7 linked regions of the Homo sapiens genome follow. The protein of the gene in region 1 purifies or fractionates together with the protein of each later gene. This does not show direct contact. Each region holds a gene or a part of one and is shown in the gene's direction. Other genes may lie near its edges.

What was found.
Region 2: the proteins of WIF1 (region 1) and DDX52 purify together in Homo sapiens (affinity purification with mass spectrometry; one large-scale study listed by BioGRID and IntAct). This does not show direct contact.
Region 3: the proteins of WIF1 (region 1) and NAA15 purify together in Homo sapiens (affinity purification with mass spectrometry; one large-scale study listed by BioGRID and IntAct). This does not show direct contact.
Region 4: the proteins of WIF1 (region 1) and CSTF3 purify together in Homo sapiens (affinity purification with mass spectrometry; one large-scale study listed by BioGRID and IntAct). This does not show direct contact.
Region 5: the proteins of WIF1 (region 1) and NDUFB3 purify together in Homo sapiens (affinity purification with mass spectrometry; one large-scale study listed by BioGRID and IntAct). This does not show direct contact.
Region 6: the proteins of WIF1 (region 1) and MAP1S purify together in Homo sapiens (affinity purification with mass spectrometry; one large-scale study listed by BioGRID and IntAct). This does not show direct contact.
Region 7: the proteins of WIF1 (region 1) and CPSF7 purify together in Homo sapiens (affinity purification with mass spectrometry; one large-scale study listed by BioGRID and IntAct). This does not show direct contact.

The regions. Positions count from the first base shown.
Region 1 is NC_000012.12:65,076,306-65,079,805, reverse strand, and holds part of WIF1 (wnt inhibitory factor 1 precursor), read left to right. Parts: intron 1-1,951; coding exon 1,952-2,060; intron 2,061-3,500. UniProt on the Homo sapiens protein: Binds to WNT proteins and inhibits their activities. May be involved in mesoderm segmentation.
Region 2 is NC_000017.11:37,640,647-37,644,747, reverse strand, and holds the start of DDX52 (probable ATP-dependent RNA helicase DDX52), read left to right. Parts: upstream 1-1,301; 5' UTR 1,302-1,327; coding exon 1,328-1,414; exon of another isoform or gene 1,415-1,810; intron 1,811-2,439; coding exon 2,440-2,638; intron 2,639-4,101.
Region 3 is NC_000004.12:139,339,505-139,343,004, forward strand, and holds part of NAA15 (N-alpha-acetyltransferase 15, NatA auxiliary subunit), read left to right. Parts: intron 1-1,407; coding exon 1,408-1,565; intron 1,566-3,321; coding exon 3,322-3,456; intron 3,457-3,500. UniProt on the Homo sapiens protein: Auxillary subunit of N-terminal acetyltransferase complexes which display alpha (N-terminal) acetyltransferase (NAT) activity. The NAT activity may be important for vascular, hematopoietic and neuronal growth and development.
Region 4 is NC_000011.10:33,158,681-33,162,745, reverse strand, and holds the start of CSTF3 (cleavage stimulation factor subunit 3), read left to right. Parts: upstream 1-1,265; 5' UTR 1,266-1,420; coding exon 1,421-1,447; intron 1,448-4,065. UniProt on the Homo sapiens protein: One of the multiple factors required for polyadenylation and 3'-end cleavage of mammalian pre-mRNAs.
Region 5 is NC_000002.12:201,082,001-201,086,250, forward strand, and holds the end of NDUFB3 (NADH dehydrogenase [ubiquinone] 1 beta subcomplex subunit 3), read left to right. Parts: intron 1-3,458; coding exon 3,459-3,615; 3' UTR 3,616-3,750; downstream 3,751-4,250. UniProt on the Homo sapiens protein: Accessory subunit of the mitochondrial membrane respiratory chain NADH dehydrogenase (Complex I), that is believed not to be involved in catalysis. Complex I functions in the transfer of electrons from NADH to the respiratory chain.
Region 6 is NC_000019.10:17,722,480-17,725,979, forward strand, and holds part of MAP1S (microtubule-associated protein 1S), read left to right. Parts: intron 1-1,646; coding exon 1,647-1,729; intron 1,730-2,569; coding exon 2,570-2,710; intron 2,711-3,349; coding exon 3,350-3,500. UniProt on the Homo sapiens protein: Microtubule-associated protein that mediates aggregation of mitochondria resulting in cell death and genomic destruction (MAGD). Plays a role in anchoring the microtubule organizing center to the centrosomes. Binds to DNA. Plays a role in apoptosis.
Region 7 is NC_000011.10:61,412,976-61,416,475, reverse strand, and holds part of CPSF7 (cleavage and polyadenylation specificity factor subunit 7), read left to right. Parts: coding exon 1-371; intron 372-691; coding exon 692-810; intron 811-3,500.

The DNA.
Region 1 (3,500 bases):
AATTTAATTCATTACATTAAATTAATGTAATTCTGGATGTCTCTACAGGTAACTGCAGAACCACTCAACTTGCCTAACTCTCATGTTAGCATTGGTGCTATTTATTGATTGTTCTTTATTTCTAAGCAAGAACATATTGTTACCATCACAACTCTCCTTCCGCTTTTTTTTTTTTTTTTTGAGACAGAGTCTCACTCTGTCACCCAGTCTGGAGTGCAGTGGCATGTTCTCAGCTCATGACAACCTCTGCCTCCCAGGTTCAAGCTGGAAGCTGATAACTGAGGGAGGAGACTTATGAAAACAATATTGATGATAATAATAACAATCTCCAATGCTTATAAATTTCTGTAATGTTGGCATTATTTCTTCCTTAATGTTTGTGAGAATTCACCAGGGAAGCCATTTGACCCTGGAATTTTTTTTGTGGGAGGGTTTTACAATTTTGAATATAATTTCCTTAACAGACATAAGGCTATTCAAACTTTCTATTTCTTGTCAGATTTGTTCATTTGTGTTTCTCAAGGAGTTCATTTTATCAAAGTCATTGAATTTATTGGTGTAACATTGATCCCTTTTCTTGCTTAAATGTCTATAGCATCTCTAGTAATGCCTCTCTTTCACTTTTTTTTTTTTTTTTTTTTGAGATGGAGTCTTGCTCTGTTGCCCAGGCTGGAGTGCAATGGTGCTATCTTGGCTCACTGCAGCCTCCACCTCCTGGGTTCAAGCAATTCTCCTGCCTCAGCCTCCCAAGTAGCTGGGACTACAAGCACCCACGACCATGCCCAGCTAAGTTTTGTATTTTTAGTAGAGACGGGGTTTCGCCATGTTGGCCAGACTGGTCTCGAACTCCTAACCTCAAGTGATCCGCCCACCTCAGCCTCCCAAAGTGCTGGGATTACAGGTGTGAGCCACCGTGCCTGGCCTTCACAAACCCTTTTAATAATCCAGTGGGAATCCATTAAGCATTAAAGCTCTATAGTGAGATTATGCATCATTACTTTCAGTATTCATGGCCATTTGAGTAGCAGGAATCATTTTCTCAACTAGACTTAGTGGGTAAATGAAAGTGTTCACAATGTAAAGGTTTATGGCTTGTTGTCTTATTGTGATGGTGGTTTTTGCATCTTTTGGCTTTTCTCTCCACAATTAAATCGAGACATTAAATATAAACCTTTCAAAGGGAATGAGAGTAAAAAATAAATGTTAACAGCAAGATCATGGAATTTGGGACTTCATTACAACTCTCCAAATTCTGATCAAAAGACTCACTTCAGAATTTAGAATTAGGAGTATTAAAGAATGATTAAAATAGCTGAGATGGATTCTAGTCAATGACTGGTTTGACATCACCTATTTCCCTAAGAGAATTTTTTTTCTCAATCTTTTAAAAAGACAGCAATTAATATCATTTAAGTTAAAAAATTACTGGGCAGGCATAGTAGCTAAAGCCTGTAATCCCAGCACTTTGGGAGGCCAAGGCAGGCAGATGACTTGAGGTCAGAAGTTCGAGACAGACCCCGGCAACATGGTGAAACCCTGTCTCTACTAAAAATACAAAAATTAGCAGGGCGTGGTGGTACATGCCTGTAATCCCAGCTACTCAGGAGGCTGAGGCAGGAGAATTGCTTGAACCTGGGAGGCAGAGGTTGCAGTGAGCTGAGATTGCGCCACTGCACTCCAGCCTGGGCAACAGAGCAAGACTCTGTCTCAAAAAACAAACAAACAAAAACAGATTAACTATTGTGGCTGTTTTTAATGTTTTTAGGGATCACTTCTCTCCAGAGTCTAACACAGAAGGGTGAGTTGTGCCTACCCAGTATCTTGGATGCTGTGTGCTCCAGAGTTCCTGTAATGAAAATTATCTCTGCCCCATCAGATGGACGATGAATTCTGTGGTGCCTTCTCCCTCTCTGGTTTCCATGTTACTAACTGTCAGTGCCTTTGGTTGTAGGCAGAATACTTCTATGAATTCCTGTCCTTGCGCTCCCTGGATAAAGGCATCATGGCAGATCCAACCGTCAATGTCCCTCTGCTGGGAACAGTGCCTCACAAGGCATCAGGTGGGTGGTCTTTGCCTGAAGAAAGGTTTACACTTAAAATGTAATGATGATAAGAATATTTAAGATGCAAATGTCCTACATCAGAGAGGTTATGAAATGTTTTCCTGAAGACATCTGTTGATTTTAGGACAGTTTGACTGTTATTCTTTGGGCAAAGGATTAAGATGGGAGTGAAGAAATGATGGTTATATAATTTTCTAAAGATTCAGAATAGCCCCAGCCCAGCCCACACTAAGTTCATAAATGATTCCAGACTTTTTTAAAGAAAAAAAAGGAGAAAGAAACACATCTGGTGAGATATATTTGGCCAATGTATGGATTAATGAGATACACAAAAATGTGGCAAAGATACAAAGTAAGTGATTGGGGGCAAATGGGATAAGTCAAGAAAATTCCCCAAAAGTTAGCATTGTATTAAATTAGAATTTGAAGGAGAGAAGAGACATGGAAAAGTGGGAGAAAGGGGTTCAACGTTTCTAGTCTAATCATCCTTCTTTGCTAAGAAAATAATAGTATGTGATATTTGTTTAAAGCTTTTCAGCTTACAACAGACTCACTCTTGCGTTATCTAATTTGAATACTAGTAGCGAGTCAAATCCAGAATTGCAGCTCATTTTCTAAATTAAAAAATTAAGACTTAGGAGATTTGACTGACTTGCCCAAAGTCAAATATTAGGATAGTAATAAGCAGTAGAGTTGAGACTAGAGCCCGGGATTTCTGACTTTTAGAAATATACAGAGATCACTTGTGTTATCATCCTAATGTATTTCCTTCTCATCTTTTTTCTCTGAATTTTTACATATTTGTGATAATATATATTTGGTTTTGCGTCATGATTTTTTTTTTTTGCTTTTAACCTTTTAACATAACCATTTCCTATGTCATTATGGATTTTTTCAAAAGTTGTTTTTAATGCTCTTACAATATTCTATTTTATGGATATACCATAATTTGTATACACATTCCCTTATTTGTTAATTATGTTGTTTTTAGAGTTTGACTATAGCAATATCACAATATTTTTTTAAACTAATGGATGGTAACTTCCATGCACATAGGAGCCCTATTTTTTTGTTCACTGTGGCTCCACCCCAGGGCCCAGCACAGAACAGGTATTCAGAAAGTAATTGTTGGATTAATGTGCGTACCAAAATCTTGGTGCTTATCTCATTATTTTGTTAAAATCGATTCCTAAAAGTTGAATTATTGTGTCAAATGATAGGAACTATGAGCTTCTTAAAGACTCTTAAAACAAATTGCCAAAATGCCAAATTACTTTCTGTAAAGGTTATCATACCCATTTTTACCCTGGTTAAGCAATAGGGAGAATGCTTGGCTTACTGTAATCCCATCAACATAGGTTATTAATCACATTAACTACTTTAGTGGCTTAAATAGTGAAAAGTCAGGCCAGGTGTGGTGACTCATACCTATAATCT
Region 2 (4,101 bases), on another chromosome or scaffold:
GATTCCATCCTCCGTATCTCACTTGTACCAGAAAGCCCTTCTTCTCTCAGGCTTTCTTAGCTCAGTAAATGGCATGCCATCTACTCAGCCAAAAAACTAGGAGTGATCTTTGATTCCTCCCTTTCTCTCACCTCTGCATAAAATCCGTCAGGTACGTTTAGCTCTACCTCCAAAATACATGCCAGATCTAATCCATTTATCTCTCTCAGCACAGATACCAACCTAGACAAGCCATGATCATCATTCTACTTTGACTAACCTGTTTCCACTCTTAGCTTTTCTATGGTCCATTCTCCAAATAGCCAGTGTAATCCTTTATGAAACATCCACGCATTCATTCACCAAAGTGCACAGAAACTGGGGATACATAACGAAGCAAAGTATATCCCTGTGCTCAGGGACTTACATTCCAGAAGAGGGAGAGGCAATAAGCAGTAAATAATTTCGTACAGATGTAATAAATATAAAAAATTAAATGTGATAAACTAAATCATGTTCTTCTCTCCATAAAAATTTTCAAATAGTTTCCCAAGGTGGAAGTCCAAATTCCTTACTATGACCTTGTTACAAGATTCTGTGAGATCTGGCTTCTGTTTGTCCCTCCAACCTTATCTGTACTACTCTATCAGACTGCAACTTGGCTCTAGTCGCACCGGCATTCTTTCTATTCCCTCAAGGTTCCAATTTTTTTCCCTTCAGCCACGTGTTTCCCCTATCTGGAATGCTGTTCCCAGATCTTGGACAGGTTGCTTCCTCTTAGCTCAAGTTTTCACTTCAACAGAGTGAATTTCACTAAGTCAGCTCCCTCATCATTTTCTCTATCAATTACACCTTTTTGTTTTATAGCACTTATTACTTTACAGAGATTTTGCTTATTTATTTGTTAACAATATCTGTTGTCCCTACTAAAATGTAAGCTTCGTAAGAAGAGGAATCTTAAGATGTTGTTTACTATAGTATCCCTCAAAGTCTAGAACAGTGCCCAACATAAGAGGATACTGATAAATATTTTTTAAAAGAATTTACACACGCCTGTAGTCCCAGCAGTTTGGGAGACCGAGATGGGAGGATCACTTGAGCCCAGGAGTTCGAGGCTGCGATTGCGCCACTGCGCTCCAGCCTGGGCGACAGAGAGAGACCTTGTTTCAAAAAAAAAAAAAAAAGATAAATAATGACGGAGTACACGATAATAAAATAGCCTCGTTTCTCACCCAGCCAGGCTCCGCCTACAGGAGCCAATTATGCTCACGCCCTCTTCCGACGCTGCCCGGGGCCTGGGAAGTAGTCTGCGCAGGCGCCGTAGAACTGTGGCGCTTTCTGGGTAAAGATGGACGTCCACGATCTCTTTCGCCGGCTCGGCGCGGGGGCCAAATTCGACACGAGACGCTTCTCGGCAGACGCAGCTCGATTCCAGGTACTGTGCCCAAGGGACCGAGGGCCGAGTAACTGAGAAGGAGCAGGAGCCCGGGAATGAACCCGCTGCTGGGGGAGGCCGGCGCACTTGGACACCCGTGGCCTGGCTCTCGCCACCCTTGGGGTATTTTGCTTCCTTTTGTGTTCGGCTTGCCTGCACGGCTGCTCGGTTCAAGCCTTTTGAATAAGCTCTTTAACTATCCTGTTGTAGACCTAGTTGGGCCTGGCACGGAAACCCTCTTTCCTCCCTCTTATTCAAAGCAAAGTTGGAATCCTCCTTTCAAAAGGAACTTTTTCTCCGAACCTAGAGGAAAGGAATTTCGAAAACAGAAACAACCAAAGATGGAGAAAACAGATTCTCTTACTATAGTCTCCCCAAGTTTGGCTTGGCATGCGTATAGTTGTACTGGGCGTGATTCTTTTTATTGCTTCAACCCCATGGCTTAAGTAACCAATGAGAAGAGCGATTAAGAAATGGGGGCTCTTACCTAGAGAAGTAGTGAGTGATACATCGGGGGAGGTCAATTGGGGCCCAATTCTGGAAAATCTTGAATGTCTACTTTGTTGTTTGGATGTGTATATGCGTGTGACATGTGTTTCTTCTTTCTCTAACTGGTGAGTATGAACTCTGGAGCCAGATTATCTGGGTCTAAATGCTAAGTCTGCCAGTTACTCATTTTTAGACCTACCTCAAGTTACTTAATTTCCGAATGCCTTGGTTTTCTCATTCGTAATACTGCTATTTACCTTATAGAGTTGTAAATGTGAAGCAATTTAATATGTATAAACATGCTTAGAAATCTGCTTGACATTTAGTAAGCATATATGTGTTCATTGCTAATATTAATTTGTTACTATTATGAGGTCAGAGAAGGTCTCTTCAGATTCCATTTGTCCAGACACCTGTTAGCTCGACAGATACTTGGTGAAAGGGTAGAAAAGATGAGGAGTCATTGAACAGTCTTGCTTGAATGAAAGCAATGGTATTCTGTCAGTAGGTTTCATTTTACATTTTTTGGGTTTTAGATAGGAAAAAGGAAATATGACTTTGATTCTTCGGAGGTGCTTCAGGGACTGGACTTTTTTGGAAACAAGAAGTCTGTCCCAGGTGTGTGTGGAGCATCACAAACACATCAGAAGCCCCAAAATGGAGAGAAAAAAGAAGAGAGCCTAACTGAAAGGAAGAGGGAGCAGAGCAAGAAAAAAAGGAAGACGATGACTTCAGGTTAGTGTTTGATTTCTGTCATGTTTTTTCTCTTTAATTTTTTTCAGTTATAAAAATAATACAGGCTTATGGCTACAAGTCAGACAATAAGGTCATTTGTCAGCTGATGGCACTCAGGTTGTTTCCAGGTATTTGTCATTAGAAATATTGTTACAGCAAAGGTAATTTTAAGTAAAGATATTTATACATAAATCCTTTTGTACAGGTACTGTTATTTCTGCAGAATACCATCCGAAAAGTAGCATCATATGGTGAAAGGGTATGTACCCTTTCTCTGAAAAATACTACAAAGTGACTTCCCAAGTCCTTGTCAGTGCTGAATATTATTGGTGTTAATTTTTTTGCCAAGCTAATGAATGAAACTTTTTTTTTTTGAGACAGAGTCTCACTCTGTCTCCAGGCTGGAGTGCAGTGGCGCGATCTCGGCTCACTGCAACCTCTGCCTCCTGGGTTCAAGCAATTCTCCTGCCTCAGCCTCCTGAGTAGCTGGGACTACAGGTGCGTGTCACCACGCCTAGCTAATTTTTGTATTTTTAGTAGAGATGGGGTTTCACCATGTTGGCCACGATGGCCTGGATCACTTGACCTCGTGATCCGCCCGCTTTGGCCCCCCAAAGTGCCGGGATTACAGGCCTGAACCACCGCGCCCTGCCTGAAACAATTTTATATTTTACTGATAACTGGTGAGGTCGAGCATTTTTTTTTTTTTGAGATGAGTCTCGCTTTGTTGCCCAGTCTGTGGTGCAGTGGTGCAATCTCGGCTCACTGCAAGCTCCGCCTCCTGGGTTCACGTCATTCTCCTGCCTCAGCCTCCCAAGTACCTGGGACTACAGGTGCCTGCCACCACACCTGGCTAATTTTTTGTATTTTTAGTAGAGACCAGGTTTCATCGTGTTAGCCAGGATGGTCTCGATCTCCTGACCTTGTGATCCACCCTCCTCCGCCTCCGCCTCCGCCTCCTAAAGTGCTGGGATTACAGGCGTGAGCCACCACACCTGGCTGGTCAAGCATATTTTTGTATGCTTTACTGGACATTAATATTTCACCTTTTGTGAATTGTTTCTTCTTACTCTTTGCCCATTTTGACAGAGGTTTTTGTTTTTTTGTTGTTTGTTTGTTTGCTTTTGAGACAGAGTCTCGCTCTGTTGCCCAGGCTGGAGTGCAATGGCATGTTTTCCGCTCACTGCAACCTCTGCCTCCCAGGTTCAAGTGATTCTTCTGCCTCAGGCTCCTGAGTAGCTGGGACAGGTGTGCCCCACCACGCCTGGCTAATTTTTGTATTTTTTAGTAGAGACGGGGTTTCTCCATGTTGGTCATGCTGGTCTTGAACTCCTGACCTCGTGATCTGCCCGCCTCGACCTCCCAAAGTGCTGGGATTAAAGGTGTGAGCCACCGCGCCTGGCCTTTTTTTTTTTTTTTTTTCTTGTACTGTACTCTAGGGCTGTTTATATTTTTTTAATCTA
Region 3 (3,500 bases), on another chromosome or scaffold:
CGCAATAATTAGGAGGCGGGCGGATCACGAGATCAGGAGATCAAGACCATCCTGGCCAACATGGTGAAACCCTGTCTCTACTAAAAATACAAAAATTATAGCTGGGCGTGGTGGCAGACGCTTGTAATCCCAGCTACTTGGGAGGCTGAGGCAGGAGAGTTGCTTGAACCTGGGAGGCAGAGGTTGCAGTGAGCTGAGATCATGCCACTGCACTCTAGCCTGGTGACAGAGCGAGACTCCATCTCAAAAACAAACAAACAACAACAACAACAACAAAAAACAACAAAACCCAATTACTTTGGTAGGAGAATAAAAGAAGACAGACTGAAGATAGGTGGGTTGGGTAGCTGGTACAGTAATCAAGATCTAAAGTGAAAAAGGGCTGTATTTGGGAAGTGGAATATTCTCCTCCTTGATAGCAGTTTTTACAACCTACTTTAATTTTGCTTATTTATCTGTCCTTTACTAGACTTTAAGATCTTTTAATATAGGAGGCTATTTTGATGACCTACGTCTTAGTTATTAAGAAGTTTTAGGCTGGGTTTGGGAGCTTATGCCTGTAATCCCCGCACTTTGGGAGGCCAAGGCAGGTGTATTGCTTGGGCTCAGGAGTTTGAGACCATCTTGGGCAACATGGCGAGATCCCATCTCTACCAAAAATAGAAAAAAATAGCTGGCATGCTGGTGTGTGCCTGTAGTCGCAGCTACTCAGGAGGCTGAGGTGGGAGTATCACTTGAGTGCAGGGAGTGGAGGTTGCAGTGAGCAAAGACCACACCACGACACTCCAGACTGGGTGACAGAGCAATACCTGTCTCAAAAAAAGGGAAAGAAGTTTTAATAATTACGGTTAAATGAATGAATGTTTTTATTTTATATGTGGCTGAGTTTTAGAAACTTTGTATTACACTAAGGGTTGTCCTAAGAATCTTGTTAGTTCAAGAAAATAAAATCTTCATGACTTTACATAACTGGATTCCATGAAGACCCATTCCTTCTTTTTCCTTTTACTATTAATAATATAGTAACTGTTTACATATATATATATTGACTTTGTGCCAGCCAGTGAGCACTTTATATATGTTATCCCATTTAGTTGTCAGTAGTATGATTTGCTGCATAGACTATTTGTTTACATTTTAGTAATGAGGAAACTTAATGAGACTGATTTGTCCAAGGTTACAGAGCTGATAAGGTAGGCAAGACCTAATTTTCTCTGGCTGCAAAAGCTGTGCTCTTTTCCACTGTATTAAACTGCTTTATATCTTTGAAATCAATCTCCCCCTCCCCTTCCCCTTCTTTTTAAGCTTGTAGTTTTATAAATGGCTGTGGTTCTCCAAGTTTTTTGGGAGGTCGTTTGGAATAGTAATTTTTGACTTGTAGGTTGTACCCTTAACTAAATTCTTTAGGTTGGCACGTTTATGGCCTTCTTCAGAGGTCAGACAAGAAGTATGATGAAGCCATTAAGTGTTACAGAAATGCACTAAAATGGGATAAAGACAATCTTCAAATCTTAAGGGACCTTTCCTTACTACAGATTCAAATGCGAGATCTTGAGGGTTACAGGGTAAGTAAAATAGAGACTTTTTTTTTTAATTCTAAGGGGAAAATATGTACAACTTTGAGTACTTTCAGATACATAAATTTTTTATTTCATTTTGAAAATAATTTAATTGAATTTTTTTTTCCTCCTACCACAGTGGTTATGTTTATGATTGGAATAATCAGATCTTTAAAAATAAATTATTTTATGGTGAGGCAGATTTGGCCTACTGTGTAGGGTTGACTTAATTTGATAAAAATTAACATCAGGCCAGGTGCGGTGGCTCACGCCTGTAGTCCCAGCACTTTGGGAGGCCCAGGTGGGTGAATCATGAGGTCAGGAGATCGAGACCATCCTGCCTAACACAGTGAAACCCCATCTCTACTAAAAATACAAAAAATTAGCTAGGCGTGGTGGCAGGTGCCTGTAGTCTAGCTACTCAGGAGGCTGAGGCAGGAGAATGGCCTGAACCCGGGAGGTGGAGCTTGCAGTGAGCCAAGATCACGCCACTGCACTCCGGCCTGGGTAACAGAGCGAAACTCTGTCTCAAAAAAAAAAAAAAAAAAAAAAAAAAGAAAATCAGTACTCCTCAAATAAACAATGCCTTTGTCTAGTATTGACATGTAACTCTAACATTTACTTCCCACATTTTTCTGGAAAGCAAAACAAAAAAAAAATTTTTTTTTTCTTGGAGACATTAGAGTCTCACTCTGTTGCCCAGGCTGGAGTGCAGTGGCATGATCTTGGCTCACTGCAGCTTCCACCTCCTGGGTTCAAGCAGTTCTCATGCCTCAGCCTCCTGAGTAGCTGGGGCTACAGACATGTGCCACCATGCCCAGCTCATTTTTTATATTCTAATAGAGATGAGGTTTCACCATGTTGCTCAGGCTGGTCTTGAACTCCTGAGCTCAGGCAGTCCACCCCACCTTATTCTCCCAAAGTGCTAGGATTACGGGCATGAGCTGCTGCACCTGGCAAAAACAAATGTTTTGTTTCTTCTTTCTACCTCCACTGACTCTAATATATTTTTGTAGCTTCGATTTTAACCCTTAAATTAGTGTTAGATCTATTTAGTTCCTCTTTCATATTCTTTCCTCTTTATGTATGTTAACTCTGTAGTTGGACACTTAATTTTTAAAAACATTTTTGAATATTTTTCCTTTGTGCTGTTCTTTCCATCCTGCCTCTTTTCTGGGACTGAGCAGATCAAGAAATAAAGAAGGGTCTTAAGTTTGGTCTTAAGTTTTAAAAACTTAAATCTGGTCTTAAGTTTTAAAAAAATTCTAAGATTAGCTTGGAGGCTTCATTATGTTCTTAACAAATATTTCTTTGCCTCCATAAAGCTACACAATATGGATGTTTGAAGTATTTTCTATTATTGTTCCCATCATTGTGTTGTAAAATGCTTGGGGTTGTGGGATAAATTAATGTGTGTTTTTTTTTTTTTTTTTTGAGACGGCGTCTTGCTCTGTTGCCAGGCTGCAACCTCTGCCTCCCGGGTTCAAGTGATTCTCCCGCCTCAGCCTCCTGAGTAGCTGGGACCACAGGCGTGCACCACCATGCCCAGTTAATTTTTGTATTTTTGATAGAGACGGGGTTTCACCATGTTGGCCAGGATGGTCTCGATCTCTTGACCTCGTGATCCACCCGCCTTAGCCTCCCAAAGTGCTGGGATTACAGGCGTGAGCCACTGCGCCTGGCCTAATATGGAGATCTTTTAAAGGAGCACTTGCTGTTACTAAAAGCCTAAGAAAAAGTGTTTATTTTTTTCCTTTTAAAGGAAACGAGGTATCAGTTACTTCAGCTTCGACCTGCGCAGAGAGCATCATGGATTGGTTATGCTATTGCTTACCATTTATTAGAAGATTATGAAATGGCAGCAAAGATTTTAGAAGAATTTAGGAAAACACAACAGGTAATAACTAGAAGCCATTTTACTAAGTCTGATCCTAAGTATAA
Region 4 (4,065 bases), on another chromosome or scaffold:
GCTCACTGCAACCTCCGCCTCGCGGGTTCAAGCGATTCTCCTGCTTAAGCTTCCCGAGTAACTGGGACTACAGGCGCAAACCACCACGCCCGGCTACTTTTTTTGTATTTTTGGTAGAGACGAGATTTCACCAAGTTGGCCAGGTTGGTCCTGAATTCCTGACTTTATTTATTTATTTTCTGAGACGGAGTCTCGCTCTGCCGCCCAGGCTGGAGTGCAGTGGCGCGATCTCGGCTCACTGCAAGCTCCGCCTCCCAGGTTCACGCCAGTCTCCTGCCTCAGCATCCGGAGTAGCTGGGACTACAGGCGCCCGCCACCACGCCCGGCTAATTTTTTTTTGTGTGTGTGTGTATTTTTAGTAGAGACGGGGTTTTACCGTATTAGCCAGGATGGTCTCATCTCCTGACCTTGTGATCCGCCCGCCTCAGCCTCCCAAAGTGCTGCGATTACAGGCGTGAGCCACCGCACCTGGCCTAGAACTCCTGACTTTAAATGATCCATCCGTTTTGGCCTCCCAAACTGCTGGGATTACAGGCGTGGGCCACCGCGCCCAGTCAATCTCATTTAATCTTAATGCCAGGTACTGTTCTAACACTTTTCTATGTATAATTTATTTCACTTGCAGGTACTATTATTATTCCCATCTATAGGCCAGAAAGCTGAGGTACGAAGTTTAATTACCAGAGTTACTTATCTTCGTTAAAATCCAAGCAGTCTGGGCTACAAACAATTATACCTACTTTGCAGTCAAGGAACCAAGCTGAGATGTTGAGCTGAAAACCCAGGTCTCAGACTTCAAAGCTTTCTACACAAGAGTCGACGGTGGCAGTAAAAATTAATGGGGGCTTGATCTATCCCTCCCACCCCCAAGAAAAGTAAAAAGCAGGAGCTGGGACCAGAGAAAACCTCCACGGAGTCCTTATCCCCTAAATATAAGAGGCATTTAACGTTTAGCATTGCTGACCTGCAATCAGGCTTCAACTGTGAGTAGCCAGGCTCTAAAGCTTGATAACTGAATTCCAAAAAGCGCGCGAGCCTCCAGGCGAAACAGCTTCCCGCCTTCCAGCCGGTTGGAGCCGGCTCAGCAACAGCCTCTCCAAGCCAGGGTAGTGACGTCAGCCCAGGAATTGGGCCCGCCCCGGGATCTCGCTGCTTTCTGCACGCTCGGAATAACCAGAGTCGCGAAATTAGCCCCGCCCACTGCCCCGGAAGTTAATGCGGAAGCCACACACCTCCTCCTCGGCCGGCAGGGGCGCAGCCATTTTAATTCATATTTGAGTGGGCGGTGGCGATTGGTGTTGGCGGTCTGGCTCAGCTGGGCAGGGGGTAACTTTACTGATTTGGGGGTGGTTTTTAGTTTAATTTTTCTTTTCTAGCTTCCCATCGACGGTCAGTGCGCACGTTGTAATCAGCTGAGGCCATGTCAGGAGACGGAGCCACGGAGCAGGTGAGGAAGGAGAGTGGTGGGGCCTCGTGGCGACCTCTTCTCCACGTCTGTTCCTCCGACTGCTCCAGACATGTTCGGCTGAGGAAGGAATTGGGTCTAGTGAACCCGGGGGACAGGGTATATAGAAGAGTGGTGGGAATGGGGAGCAAGATCTAAGATTTAATTTTTTTTTTTTTACTTCTCTCTCTTAGGCATGAATACGAGTAAATACTTGATTTAGACAATAGCGGTAGGCTGCTTCGTCCTATTTAGATTCATGGGACTACTCCAGATGGGATGCTTTCCTTTGATATCGTTTTGGTATTAGAGTGGATAGGAATTATTTTAACGTGCACCCGACGTTTTAGAAAAACTTGACAGTGTTTCTTTTACCCCGCCAAATATACTGTACCCAGAAATAGGTTACTAGTTTGAGAAATATTTGAGACAAAGCTAATCTGGAGAATTAAGACTTAATGAGAGCGAGTGAAGAAAGAAGCAAGTTATGCTGAGGTTTTGGGAATTTTGTGGCTTTCTTTCGTTTTCTTTTCTTTTAGCCACATTTCGTTTTCATTTTTCCAGCTACATAAACATTGCAGGTATAAGTTGAAAATGAGAAGTCTGTTTTGGCCACTGTAAATAAAAGCATCTGTTTTAATAGTAAATATGAGTGACAACTAAATATTTTAAAATTCACACTTTTAGGTTAGATCAGTGTGATTTGTTTCTTTTGCTCTTTGTATTCAGAATTTTGTAGGATAGTATTTACCTTTTAGTGTGAAAGAGGAAGCTAAATAGTTATGAAAAATGCCATTAAATGTGTTTTTCGATCTAAGTCCTGGTGTGTTTAGATAAATACAGTTTCTAAAATGGAGGCTAGGTAGCCTGCAGTCTCAATTTCCTGAAATTTCCCATTGCCATAGCAACGACATGCACTTAGGTTTTCGTTTTTCAGGTTCCCTAGCTTATAACGTGGAAGATGTTATTGGAGGTTGGCAGAGATGAGGCAAAATAGGAGCGTTCTATTGCATAGTCTGTAAGACTGTAGATTTCATTATGTCGGCAGTTTGATTAAATTGTTTTGTGTTTGCCCGAGGACTGGTTTCAGTCCAGAAATCTTCGCACTATTTACATTTTACATAGTGTTAGCATGCCCAAGCATGCAAAGTCTTAAAATTACTGTATCAAAACTGTTTACCCCTTTTCTGATCTAGTATTTGTTATCTGAAAGTGAAGGACTAATGAACTGAGGTTTCATTGAAAGTTTTCGAAATTCATTGTTAATTCTTAGAATTTATCTAAAATTACAAAGACACGGAAATGTTACCATGACCTCTTGAATGTTTTAGAACTGTGGTGTTTCAGTGGGACAGATGGTGGTGAAAATTTATAGAAAAATAATTTCTCCCAAAGGTTTTATTGTGCAAAGTTTAGAACATAGAGAAAAGTTGAAAGAAAAGTGCAGTGAACACCTGTAGGACAACTCTTCGCCTGGAATCAACAGCTGAAAGCCTTGCCATATTTGCTTTATCTCCCCATGCTGATAGATTGAGAACAGAGTCTTTGTCACTCACACTAGAGTGCTGTGACGCCATCACAGCTCACCATAGCTTCGACCTCCCTGCGCTCTGTGATCCTGCCACCTCAGCCTCCTCCGTAGCTGGGAGTACAGGCGCGCGCCACCATGCCCAGCTAATTTTTTTTTTTTTTTTTTTTTTTTTTTTGAGATGGAGCCTTGCTCTGTCGCCCAGACTGGAGTGCAGTGGCGCGATTTCGCCTTACTGCAGCCTCCGCCTCCCGGTTCAAGCGATTCTCCTGCCTCAGCCACCCCAGTAGCTGGGATTACAGGCGCCCACCACCATGCCCCGCTAATTTTTGTATTTTAAGTAGAGACGGGGATTTTGCCACGTTGCCCAGGCTGGTCTCGAACTCCTGACCTCAAGTGATCCGCCTACCTCTGCCTTCCAAAGTGCTGGATTTACAGGCGTGAGCCACCGTACCTGGCCTAATTTTTGTATTTTTTTTGTAGAGACAGGAATTCACCATGTTGCCCAGCCTGGTCTGGAACTCCTGGGCTCAAGCGATTCACCCACCTCAGTGTCCCCAAGTGTTGGGATTACAGACAGGCACGAGCCACCACGCCTGGTCCACGCATGTTTATTTGAAAGTATTTTGACACATTGCAGCCCCAAGTATTTCAGCATTCTCTTATAAATAAGAGCAAAATGTTGTTACATAACCACCATACCATTTCCCCACCCAAGAAAATAGTATTTCTAAAATCTAGTTCTTTAAATTTCCCCATTTGTCCCAAGAATGTGATTTTTTTTTTAACCAGAATCAATCTAGATTTACATATTGAATCATTTACTTCTGTCTCTTAAGTAGTCTCACCATTCTTCTCCCCTGGGGCTGTTGTCTATTCGAAGTGTCAAGGACACTTAACACTGCTTTTCTGGGTGTATTTGTTTTTTGTTGTTTGTTTGCTTGCTTGCTTTTGGTTTGGGGGTTGATGATGTCATTTAACTTGTCCCTTCATCTGTATTTCCTGAAAACTTTACAGTTAGGTCTATACTCAGCCTTGATATTTGGGTTAAGTATTTTTGGATAGAATACTTAACATTATATCATTACATTAG
Region 5 (4,250 bases), on another chromosome or scaffold:
AGAGATGGGGTTTCACTGTGTTAGCCAGAATGGTCTCGATATCCTGACCTCATGATCCACCCACCTCAGCTTCCCAAAGCGCTGGGATTACAGGCATGAGCCACCGCGCCAGGCCTAATTTTTGTATTTTTTTGGTAGAGATGGGGTTTCACCATGTTGGCCAGGCTGGTCTTGAACTCATGACCTCAAGTGATCCGCTCGCCTCAGCCCCCCAAAGTGCTAGGATTACAGGTTTGAGCCATCAGGCCTGGCGTTGTTTGTTTGTTTGTTTGTTTGTTTGTTTTGGGAGATGGAGTCTCCGTCGCCCAGGATGGAGTGCAATGATGCCGTTTTGGCTCATTGCAGCCTCTACCTCGTGGGCTGAAATCATCCTCCCACCTCAGCCTCCCGAGTAGCTGGGACTACAGGTGCATGCCGCCATGCCCAGCTAATTTTTGTATTTTTTGTTGAGACGAGGTTTTCCTGTGTTGCCCAGGCTGGTCTCAAAATCCTGAGCTCATGTGATTTGACCACCTCAGCCTCTCAGAGTGCTGGAATTACAGATCTGAGCTACAGCACCCAGCTTGAATTATTTTAATTTTTGATGCTATTGTAAATAGTATTTTAAAATCTCAACTTCCAGTTGTTCATTGCTAATACTTGTAAACACAGTTGACTTTTATATGTTGAGTTTATATCTTGTTACCTTGCTAAATTCACTTTTTTTTTTTTTTTTTTTTTTTTTGAGACGGAGTCTCACTCTGTCGCCCAGGCCGGACTGCGGACTGCAGTGGCGCAATCTCGGCTCACTGCAAGCTCCGCTTCCCGGGTTCACGCCATTCTCCTGCCTCAGCCTCCCGAGTAGCTGGGACTACAGGCGCCCGCCACCGCGCCCGGCTAATTTTTTGTATTTTTAGTAGAGACGGGGTTTCACCTTGTTAGCCAGGATGGTCTCGATCTCCTGACCTCATGATCCACCCGCCTCGGCCTCCCAAAGTGCTGGGATTACAGGCGTGAGCCACCGCGCCCGGCCGCTAAATTCACTTTTTAGTTCAAGTAGATTTTTTTTACAGATTTCTTAGAATGTTCTTCATAAACAATCATTCTGTCTACAAATACATTGTTACTTCTTCCTTTTCAATCTGTAAACTTTTTATTTCTTTTTCTTGCATTTTTGTACTGGCTAACACCACTACTATAATGTTGAATGAAAGTGGTGGACGTCCTTGCCTTATTCCCAACTGGGAGAAAACATTTGGTGGGTCACCACTTAGTATGATGTTTCTTACAGTGATCTCCTAGGTGCCTTTTATCAAGATGAGGAATTTCTCTCTATTTCTAGATTACTAAGTGTTTCATTGTTTATTATTTCTTTTTTTTTTTTTTTTTTTTGAGACAGAGTTTTGCTCTTGTTGCCCAGGCTGGAGTGCAATGGCGAGATCTTGGCTCACCGCAACCTCTGCCTACCAGGTTCAAGCGATTCTCCTGCCTCTGCCTCCCGAATAGCTGGGATTACAGGCATGTGCCACCACACCCGGCTAATTTTGTTTTTTTAGTAGAGACTAAAACGTTGGCCAGGCTGGTCTCAAGCTCCCGACCTCAGGTGATCCACACGCCTCGACCTCCCAAAGTGCTGGGATTACAGGCCTGAGCCACCGTGCCCATCCTGTTATTACCATTAATGGATATTGGATTTTGTTAAATGCTTTTTCTGCATCTATTGAGATGTTCATAGTTTTTCCTTTTTATTCTGTTAATATGGCGAGTTACTTCTATTAATTTTCAAATATAAACAAATCTTGCATTCCTGGAGTGAACCCTACTTCATTATGATGTATTACCATTTTTATATGCTGTCGGATTCAGTTTTCTAAAATTTTGTTAAGAATATTTGCACCAGGTGTGGTGGCTAATGCCTGTAATCCCAGCACTTTGGGAAGCCAAGGCAGGCGGATCACTTAAGGCTGGAAGTTTGAGACCAGCCTGGCCAACATGGCAAAACCCTGTCTCTACTAAAATTACAAAAATTGGCCGGGCGCGGTGGCTCATGCCTGTAATCCCAGCACTTTGGGAGGCCGAGGTGGGTGAATCACAAGGTCAGAAGTTCGAGACCAGTGTGGCCAACATAGTGAAACCCCGTCTCTACTAAAAATACAAAAAATTAGCTGGATGTGGTGGTGTGCGCCTATAATCCCAGCTACTGGGGAGGCTGAGGCAGGAGAATCCCGTGAACCCAGGAAGTGAAGGTTTCAGTTAGCCAAGATCGTACCATCGCACTCCAGCCCAGGCGACAGTGCGAGACTCCATCTCAAAAAAAAAAAAAATACAAAAATTAGTCAGACATGGTGGCGGGCACCTATAATCCCAGCTACTCAGGAGGCTGAGGCAGAGAATTGCTTGAACCTGGGAGGCAGAGGTTGCAGTAAGCTGAGATCACACCACTGCACTCCAGCCTGGGCAACAGATTGAGACTCTGTCATAAATAAATAAACAAACAAACAAACAAAAATTAGCGGGCATGGTGGTGTGTGCCTGTAATCCCAGCTACTTGGGAGGCTGAGGTGGAAGAATCACTTGAATCCAGAAGGTGGAGGTTGCAGTGAGCTGAGATTGTGCCACTGCTCTCTAGCCTCAGTGACAGAGCAAGACTCCATCCGCCCCCGCCAAAAAAAGAATATTTGCATCTATGTTCATGAGGGATAGTATTCTGTAGCTGCTTTTCTTCTAACATCTTTGTCTGGTTTTGGTATCCCAATTAGATTTAATTAGCTCTCGTATTTCCTAAGTCATATTTCTAGAGTTAAATAGTTTTTGTTTTTCATAACATGATTTTTTCATTGGCTTGTCCTTATCAGACCAGAGCAGGGTATCAATCTTCCAAAATTCAGGCTGCTATGGTAGGGAGAAGCAGAGATCCTTTTGAATAGTAACAGTAATGTCAAGTGTTACATACTCCATACTCCTCTGCCAAAATATATCATGCATGAGCCTGTTTAGTCTTTATGATATTATAAAGTAGATAATAATCATCATTGAATAGAACAGGAAGCAGACCATGACAGGCTAAGCATCTTGCCCAGCCTACAAGATTGTGAATCTAATATAAGTGGCATACCAAAGATTAATACCAAGTCTCTAACTTCATCTTTCCGTGATGTTGTAATGACTAGTGTGGGCAGAGCCCATCTGACCTGTGACAGATAAGCTGACGTGAGTCTTGCATTTGAGGGTTCTGTAAAATCCTGAGGCATATGACTATTAAATGTGAAACCATCAAGTGTTTATTCTTCTATTTTATATGTGAAACTTGGGCATATACTTAATTATCCTATGCCACAGAAAGATTCCTATTGCGATTCACTTAAATGATCTTCTGTAGGGTAGCATTTAAGTCAATTAGAAAGATGAAAATTAAATGTCTTCAACGTATATACACACACGTTGTGTATGATTATAATTTTTTCTTTTTTTTTTTCTAGCAATGAAGCTTGGAGATACATGGGTGGCTTTGCAAAGAGTGTTTCCTTTTCTGATGTATTCTTTAAAGGATTCAAATGGGGATTTGCTGCATTTGTGGTAGCTGTAGGAGCTGAATATTACCTGGAGTCCCTGAATAAAGATAAGAAGCATCACTGAAGATAATACCTGGAAGCATCATAGTGGTTTCTTAACTCTCCAAAATAAGATTTCTTCTCTGTAGCCTACTTGTCTGGTTTATCCCTTACAGAATATTAGTAAGATTTAATCAATTAAAATATATATATATGCCAATCTGCTTTTGTCATTCTTAAAAAAAAAAAAGTGTCTCAAGCCATATCAGATTTGGTTTAGAATACATAGGGGGTTGGAGAACAGCAGTAGTGCGTTCTGCATATAGCAGGCAGGCATCATATATTTGGCTGAGCAAATGGGCATGTTCTAAGAAGTTTTTTTTTAATCTTTTTCTTTTTTTTTTTTTAACTAGTCCTGACCTAGCTGGCACTAACAAGTATTTAAATGGGAGTTGGCCTTGCTGTTTTTTTTTTGAGATGGAGTCTCGCTCTGTCACCCAGGCTGGAGTACAGTGGCGTGATCTCGGCTCACTGCAAGCTCTGCCTCCCGGGTTCACACCATTCTTCTGCCTCAGCCTCTCAAGTAGCTGGGACTACAGGCGCCCGCCACCATGCCCAGCTAATTTTGTTTTTGTATTTTCAGTAGAGACAGGGTTTCACCGTGTTAGTCAGGATGGTCTCGATCTCCTGACCTTGTGATCCACCCGCCTCAGCCTCCCA
Region 6 (3,500 bases), on another chromosome or scaffold:
GGCTCACACCTATAATCCCAGCACTTTGGAAGGCTGAGGTGGGTGGATCACCTGAGGTCAGGAGTTCGAGACCAGCCTGACCAGTATGGTGACACCCCATCTCTACTAAAAATACAAAAATTAGCTGGTTGTGGTGGCAAGCGCCTATAACCCCAGCTACTTGGGAGACTGAGGTTGGAGAATTGCTTGAACTCAGGAGGCAGAGGTTGCAGTGAGCTGAGATCGTGCCACTACACTTCAGCCTGGGCAATAGAGGGAGATTCCATCTCAAAAAAGAGAGAGAGAGAGAGGGAGGGAGGGAGGGAGGGGGAGAGGGAGGGAGAGAGAGAGAGAAAGGAAAGAGAAAGCTAAATGTGATAAGGGCGAGAGAGAGAGAAAGGGAAAAGAAGGAAAGAAAGGAAAGAAAGTTAAATGTGATAAGGGCTGGCAACACTGGAGGGTCTCTGCCTCTCAAGACTCAGCCTTGTTCACAGTTCAGTCCTGCCTCAGGGGCCTTGGCTGGTGCTGTACCCTGGTCCGGGTTGGCCCTCACCGGCCCCCACCCCGGCTCTGGCTCCTTGCCACCCCCCTCTCACAGTACTGATGTTTAAAACACATACGGGCCCTGGGGGACAGAGCAGGGTCAGGATCCCAGAAACAGCCCTACTTCAGCCCCGGCCCTTATGCTGCCCCACCCCTAGCTGAGTCCTGCCTCAGGACCTTTGCTCCGGATGTACCCTCGTCCACGTTCGCCCTCATTGGCCCTCCTCGAGCTCTGGCTCTCTGTCTGAAAAATAAATGTGGCCGGATGGGTGCAGTGGGTCAAGTCTGTAATCCCAGCACTTTGGGAGGCCGAGGCAGGCGGATCACCTGAGGTCAGGAGTTTGAGACCAGCCTGACCCACATGTTAAAACCCCGTCTCTACTAAAAATTGAAAAAATTAATGGGGCGTGGTGGCGTGTGCCTGTAATCCCAGCTACTCGGGAGGCTGAGGCAGGAGAATTGCTTGAACCCAGGAGGCGGAGGTTGCAGTGAGCCCAGGTTGCACTGTTGCACGCCAGCCTGGGCAACAAGAGCAAAACTCCGTCTCAAAAAAAAAGAAAAGAAAAAGGCCGGGCGCGGTGGCTCACGCCTGTAATCCCAGCACTTTGGGAGGCCGAGGCAGGCGGATCACGAGGTCAGGATATGGAGACTATCCTGGCTTACACGGTGAAACCCTGTCTCTACTAAAAATACAAAAACTTAGCCGGGTGTGGTGGCGGGCACCTGTAGTCCTGGCTACTCGGGAGGCTGAGGCAGGAGAATGGCGTGAACCCGGGAGGAGGAGCGGAGCTTGCAGTGAGCAGAGATTGCACCACTGCCCTCCAGCCTGGGCGACAGAGCGAGACTCCGTCTCACAAAAAAAAGAAGAAAATGGTGGCATCACTCCCAGGGGTGACAGCTGCAAACCAGGCCCTGCGCACGATGGGGCCCTCTGGTTACTGCCTCTCTTAGGCCAGCTGGGGTGGTTTGAGTTTCTCTTTCTTGCCTGGTCCTGACCTGCAGCTCTGCCGTGCGCCTGTTAATCTCCATATGATCCCTGGGTGGGTTCCCAGAGGGGTTCATGTTCCCTGAGGGTCACACGGGGAGGCAGGATTTGACTCCGGGACGGCCTGATTCCCCCACAGGCCAGCGGAGCCTGCACCACCGTGGAGACAACCTGGAGACCCTGGTCCTCCTGAACCCATCAGACAAGTCCCTGTATGATGAGGTAGGGAATGGCTGACGTCCTGGAGGGGGCGGGCTGCTGGGACCCGTGCCTTCTCTGTCTTCCTGTCTCGTGTCCTTGTCTTCATGCTGCCCCAGATCCTCTCAAGACACCCGGCACCACACTTCTTCGCCCACGAAGCCTTCCCTGTGGCTTCAGCCTCCGCTTCTTCCCTCCTCTGGGGTGGGAGCAGAAAAGCCTGGACTTTGGGAGGGAGGGGAGGGTAAGCACTCCCAGCTCAGGGCCCAGGACAGCGTGGGTCTGGAGGTGGGAAGGCCAGAGCAGACAGGTTTTCCTCCTGTGGGTTCCCTCCGGCTAGGCCCCAGGAGTTGTCTGAATCGACTCACTAACATTAACCAGCTTGTGGCCATCTGTACTCTACCAATTATACATCCGGAAGATGAACCAGACAGAGCCCTGGGGCATCCCACTACAGACCTTCTTACAGGTTGATTCCTTGGATCAACTTTTCCCTTTTGTTCCCTTGAGGGGCTCTCAGTCTTTAAGAGACAGAGTGAGACACAGACACCCCCAGCCCTGTGGCATCAGGGCTGGGCTGGAGGGAGAGGTGGACTAGAGAGAGCCCAGAAAGGGCAAGTAGTGCCTTCAGGAGGAAGGGACATCAGAGCTGGGCTTTGTAGGATGAATAGGAGTTTGCTAGGGTTGCTCCAGGGCCCAGCAGGAGACCTGGAGACTGCCTTCGTAGCTAGTTGAGCACTGGGCTGGTCGTGGGGTGAGGACAGGAGAGGGGTGGTTATGTATCGACTCGAGGCTACCCCAAAGAGGACTGCTGGATACGTCACTGCACAGAACGGGTCCTTTAGTGTTCACCCCCTCCCTCAGCTCCGGAACCTTCTGTTGGACCCTGCCTCTCACAAGCTACTGGTGTTGGCTGGGCCCTGCCTGGAGGAGACGGGGGAGCTGCTGCTACAGACAGGGGGCTTCTCGCCTCACCACTTCCTCCAGGTCCTGAAGGACAGAGAGGTAAGCCACCCCTTTGCCATCCCCTGCTTCCCCAGCTCTGAATCCTGACTGGGGTGTATCAGGCTGTGTGGCACCAGCGACCTGCTGTTTTCCATGGCCTGGTCTCCCCATCCTCTGTAGGATGGCAGTGGTGACACATGCCTCCTGGCTGTCTGGGGTCAGTCCCATTGCCCGCGAAAGGGTGTGGTGTGAGCTGAGTTTGTAGGTCAGCAGATGTCCCAAAGTCCTGATGAGGGATGGAGCCAAATGGGTCCTTCCTGGTGCCCGCAGTCTGGGTAGGACACATGGGCAAAATGGCAAACCTCACTTTCACATTGTAGTGGGGCACTTAAAAATGGTGAGAAAAGGTTCAGTAGACAGGTGGGGCGTGGAGAGTCTCCTTGGAGGGAGCTGTGCCCTGGGAGGAGAGAATGGTGAGTGTAAAGGCCCTGGGGCAGGGAGGCATTTGAAGGGGAGGGAGAGACAGGAGGTGAGGCCAGATCAAAGAGCCTTGTGGCGCTGGAGAGGGTTGGGTTTTGGCGGGAGGGCCCTGAGGAGCAGGCCCTGGGGGAAAGGATGAGGGTGTCCTCGCCCAGTTTTCCCACCGGGCTAGGTGTTGCCTGGCTCTAGGTGGTCCCTTACCACTCCTCCTCCATACAGATCCGGGACATCCTGGCCACCACGCCCCCACCTGTGCAGCCGCCCATACTCACCATCACCTGCCCCACCTTCGGTGACTGGGCTCAGCTGGCACCCGCTGTGCCTGGCCTTCAGGGGGCGCTCCGGCTCCAGCTGCGGCTGAACCCCCCGG
Region 7 (3,500 bases), on another chromosome or scaffold:
GATGGACGGGCCACACCCTCTGAGAACCTTGTACCCTCATCTGCTCGTGTGGATAAGCCCCCCAGTGTGCTGCCCTACTTCAATCGTCCTCCTTCGGCCCTTCCCCTGATGGGTCTGCCCCCACCACCAATTCCACCCCCACCACCTCTCTCCTCAAGCTTTGGGGTCCCTCCTCCTCCTCCTGGTATCCACTACCAGCATCTCATGCCCCCACCTCCTCGATTACCTCCTCATCTTGCTGTACCTCCCCCTGGGGCCATCCCACCTGCCCTTCACCTCAATCCAGCCTTCTTCCCCCCACCAAACGCTACAGTGGGGCCTCCACCAGATACTTACATGAAGGCCTCTGCCCCCTATAACCACCATGGCAGGTAAGGACTATTGTTCCTTTCAGATTTGAGCCAGGGTAAATAAGTGTATTAAGCATTTTATTCTCCCTGAGAAAGTGAGCACTGAATCCTTGTTCTTTCCCTTATAGACATTCTGTTATCATAGCATTGACTCCTGGGAAGTAGTACCATGTCCTTTATACCCCTTTTTAAGGTGCTTAATTAAATGCGGGAGCAGGTGTTATGAATGCTACAGATGTCTAGCATTGTTCTGTGTTATGCCAAAATTACCAAAGTGTTGTAGAGTACAGTAAAAATAATAAGGGATGTGAGCAATCAAGGATGGTATTTTCTCTGTACAGCCGAGATTCGGGCCCTCCACCCTCTACAGTGAGTGAAGCCGAATTTGAAGATATCATGAAGCGAAACAGAGCAATTTCCAGCAGTGCCATTTCCAAAGCAGTATCTGGAGCCAGTGCAGGTAACTCAGTGCTTACCTTTGCTGCCTTCTCCTTAACCTTTACTTTTTTTTCCTGATTTTGTCATTTCTACTGGCAAAAGTTCAACAAGATAAAGTTGGAGTACTGTAGATATCAAGAGCGGCATACTTTGAAGAGCAATATGTAACCTGATTTCTTGGCCTTGGGGAAGCTCCGGCAGTATTACTTAGTCTGTATCTAGGCCTGCCCTCATGAAAACCAACTTAATGCCTAGAATATAAATAATTAATACCATCTCGATGTGGTGTTTGCTGTAGAGTGAAATTCCTGCCTTGTGGAAATCTCCATCTCAGTGGTTGATCTTTAGATCTAGTGTCTGTGTAGTAGACCCAATACCAGATATAGACCCTGGGTCTTCTTTAGGAATGATGTTTTGACTGGATAATGTGTTTTTTTGTTTGTTTGTTTTGAGAGGGAGTCTTGCCCTGTCGCCCAGGCTGGAGTGCAGTGGTGCAATCTTGGCTCACTACAGCCTCCACCTCCTGGTTTCAAGCGATTCTCCTGCCTCAGCCTCCCAAGTAGCTGGGATTACAGGCACTTGCCACCACGCCCGGCTAATTTTTGTATTTTTTTGTAGAGACAGGGTTTCATCATATTGGCCAGGATGGTCTTGAACTCCTGACCACAAGTGATCCGCCTGTCTCGGCCTCCCAAAGTGCTAGGATTACAGGTGTGAGCCACCACGTCCAGCCTAGATAATGGTTTGCTATGAAATCTGATTACATTTAGGAGTCTAAGCAGAGCTGGTAGGTAGCCTATCCTAAAAAGAGGCAAGTCTGTAGATGTCATCTTAAGGCATGTTATGCCCTTACAGCTAACTTTTGCCCTGCTCTCATTATTAAGTGGGTAGAACCAGCAGCCATGATTCTGAAAGCCCTGAGCATAAGATCTTTAGTTTCTAAAAGAAGAGGCTACAGGAAGTTTCAGAGTTCTGGTCCGGTTTTCACATCGTGACATTAGCCATATTCACTTCCTTCCTGTGAGTTTCCTACATGAATGTAAATGTCTGTAGATTATCAGATCTCCTAAGAAATAAGTTAGCCCTAAATATTATCATCTGCTTTCCATCAGTTTTCATCTTTGCATCATCTTGCCAAACTTGAATCCACAGAGAAGGTTAAAGACAGAAAGTACATATGTTCCCTTCATTTTTTTCCCACCAGAAAAATCTACATTGACATCTAAATTAGTCTTTTTTAGGCCAGGTGCAGTGGCTCATGCCTGTAGTCCCAGCACTTTGGGAGGCCAAGGCCGGTAAATCACTTGAGGTCAGGAGTTTGAGACCAGCATGGCAAAACCCCATCTCTACTAATAATACAAAAATAAGCCAGGCATGGTGGCACATGCCTATAGACCCAGCTACTTGGGAGGCTGAGGCACGAGAATTGAGAATTGCTTGAACCCAGGGCGTGGAGGTTGTGGTGAGCCGAGATTGTGCCACTGCACTCCAGCCTGGGTAACAGAGTGAAACTGTGTCTCAAAAAAAAAAAAAAAAAAATTAGTCTTTTTAAATTAAAAAGTAATATATACCCATGGGTTATATGGGTTAAATACACAGAACAGTATAAAGAAAGTACTCATTGTTCCTTCTTCCTCATCAACCCTTTCACACTAAGATGATCAATAACTGAATCTTGATCTCCTGTTGTTCTCATTCCAGTCATTCAAACCACAAATACTTATTGAAGATACTACAAAAACAGGCAAAAATTCCCTGCCAGGATGGAGCTGATGTCTTCATATTCTTGTGCCTCCACTGGACAGTTTCTCCATAGTTTCTGTTCTTGTTGCCTTGCACAGAGGAAGCTGCCAGGCTTCATTTTCACTGGACCCCTGCCTGAATTCATATTTTCTTTGTATTAACTTTTGTCCTTAATGCTCTTGACTTAGCTTGGAAAAGCAAAGTGTAGGTACCCGCCCCATGACCACTATCCCTGAGCCAGGCATTACTCAGAGTTGGGAAATGAAAGGCCTAGTTTTTTATGACAGCATAAATTTTTTTTTTTTTTTTTTGAGACGAAGTCTGGCTCTATTGCCCAAGCTGGAGTAGTGCAGTGGTCTGATCCCGACTCACTGCAACCTCTCCCTCCCAGATTTAAGCAATTCTCCTGCCTCAGCCCCCCAAATAACTGGCATTACAGGTGCATGCCACACTGCCTAGCTAGTTTTTGTATTTTTAGTAGAGACCGGGTTTCACCATTTTGGCCAGGCTGGTCTCGAACTCTGGCTTCAAGTGATCCGCCCACCTCGGCCTCCCAAAGTGCTGGGATTACAAGTGTGAGCCACTGCATCCAGCCATAATTTTTTTAATGTATACATATACTACGCATACATGTTTTATGTAAATATCATATATATACACACATACATCTGATGGTAGGTTAAAAATAACTTGTAGAAATACACATTATTTAGAAAGTCTCATGAGGTACAGTGGCTCATACCTATAATCCCAGCACTTTAGGAGGCCCAGGCAGGAGGATCACTTGAGGCCAGGAATTCAAGACCAGCCTGGTCAACATAGTGAGACCCCATCTCTACAAAAAATTTTTGAAAAATAAGCCAGGTGAAGTGGCATGCAGGAGGATGGCTTGAGCCCAGGAGTTCAAGGATGCAGTGAGCTATGATCATACCACTGCTCTTCAGCCTGGATGATAAAACAAGACCCATC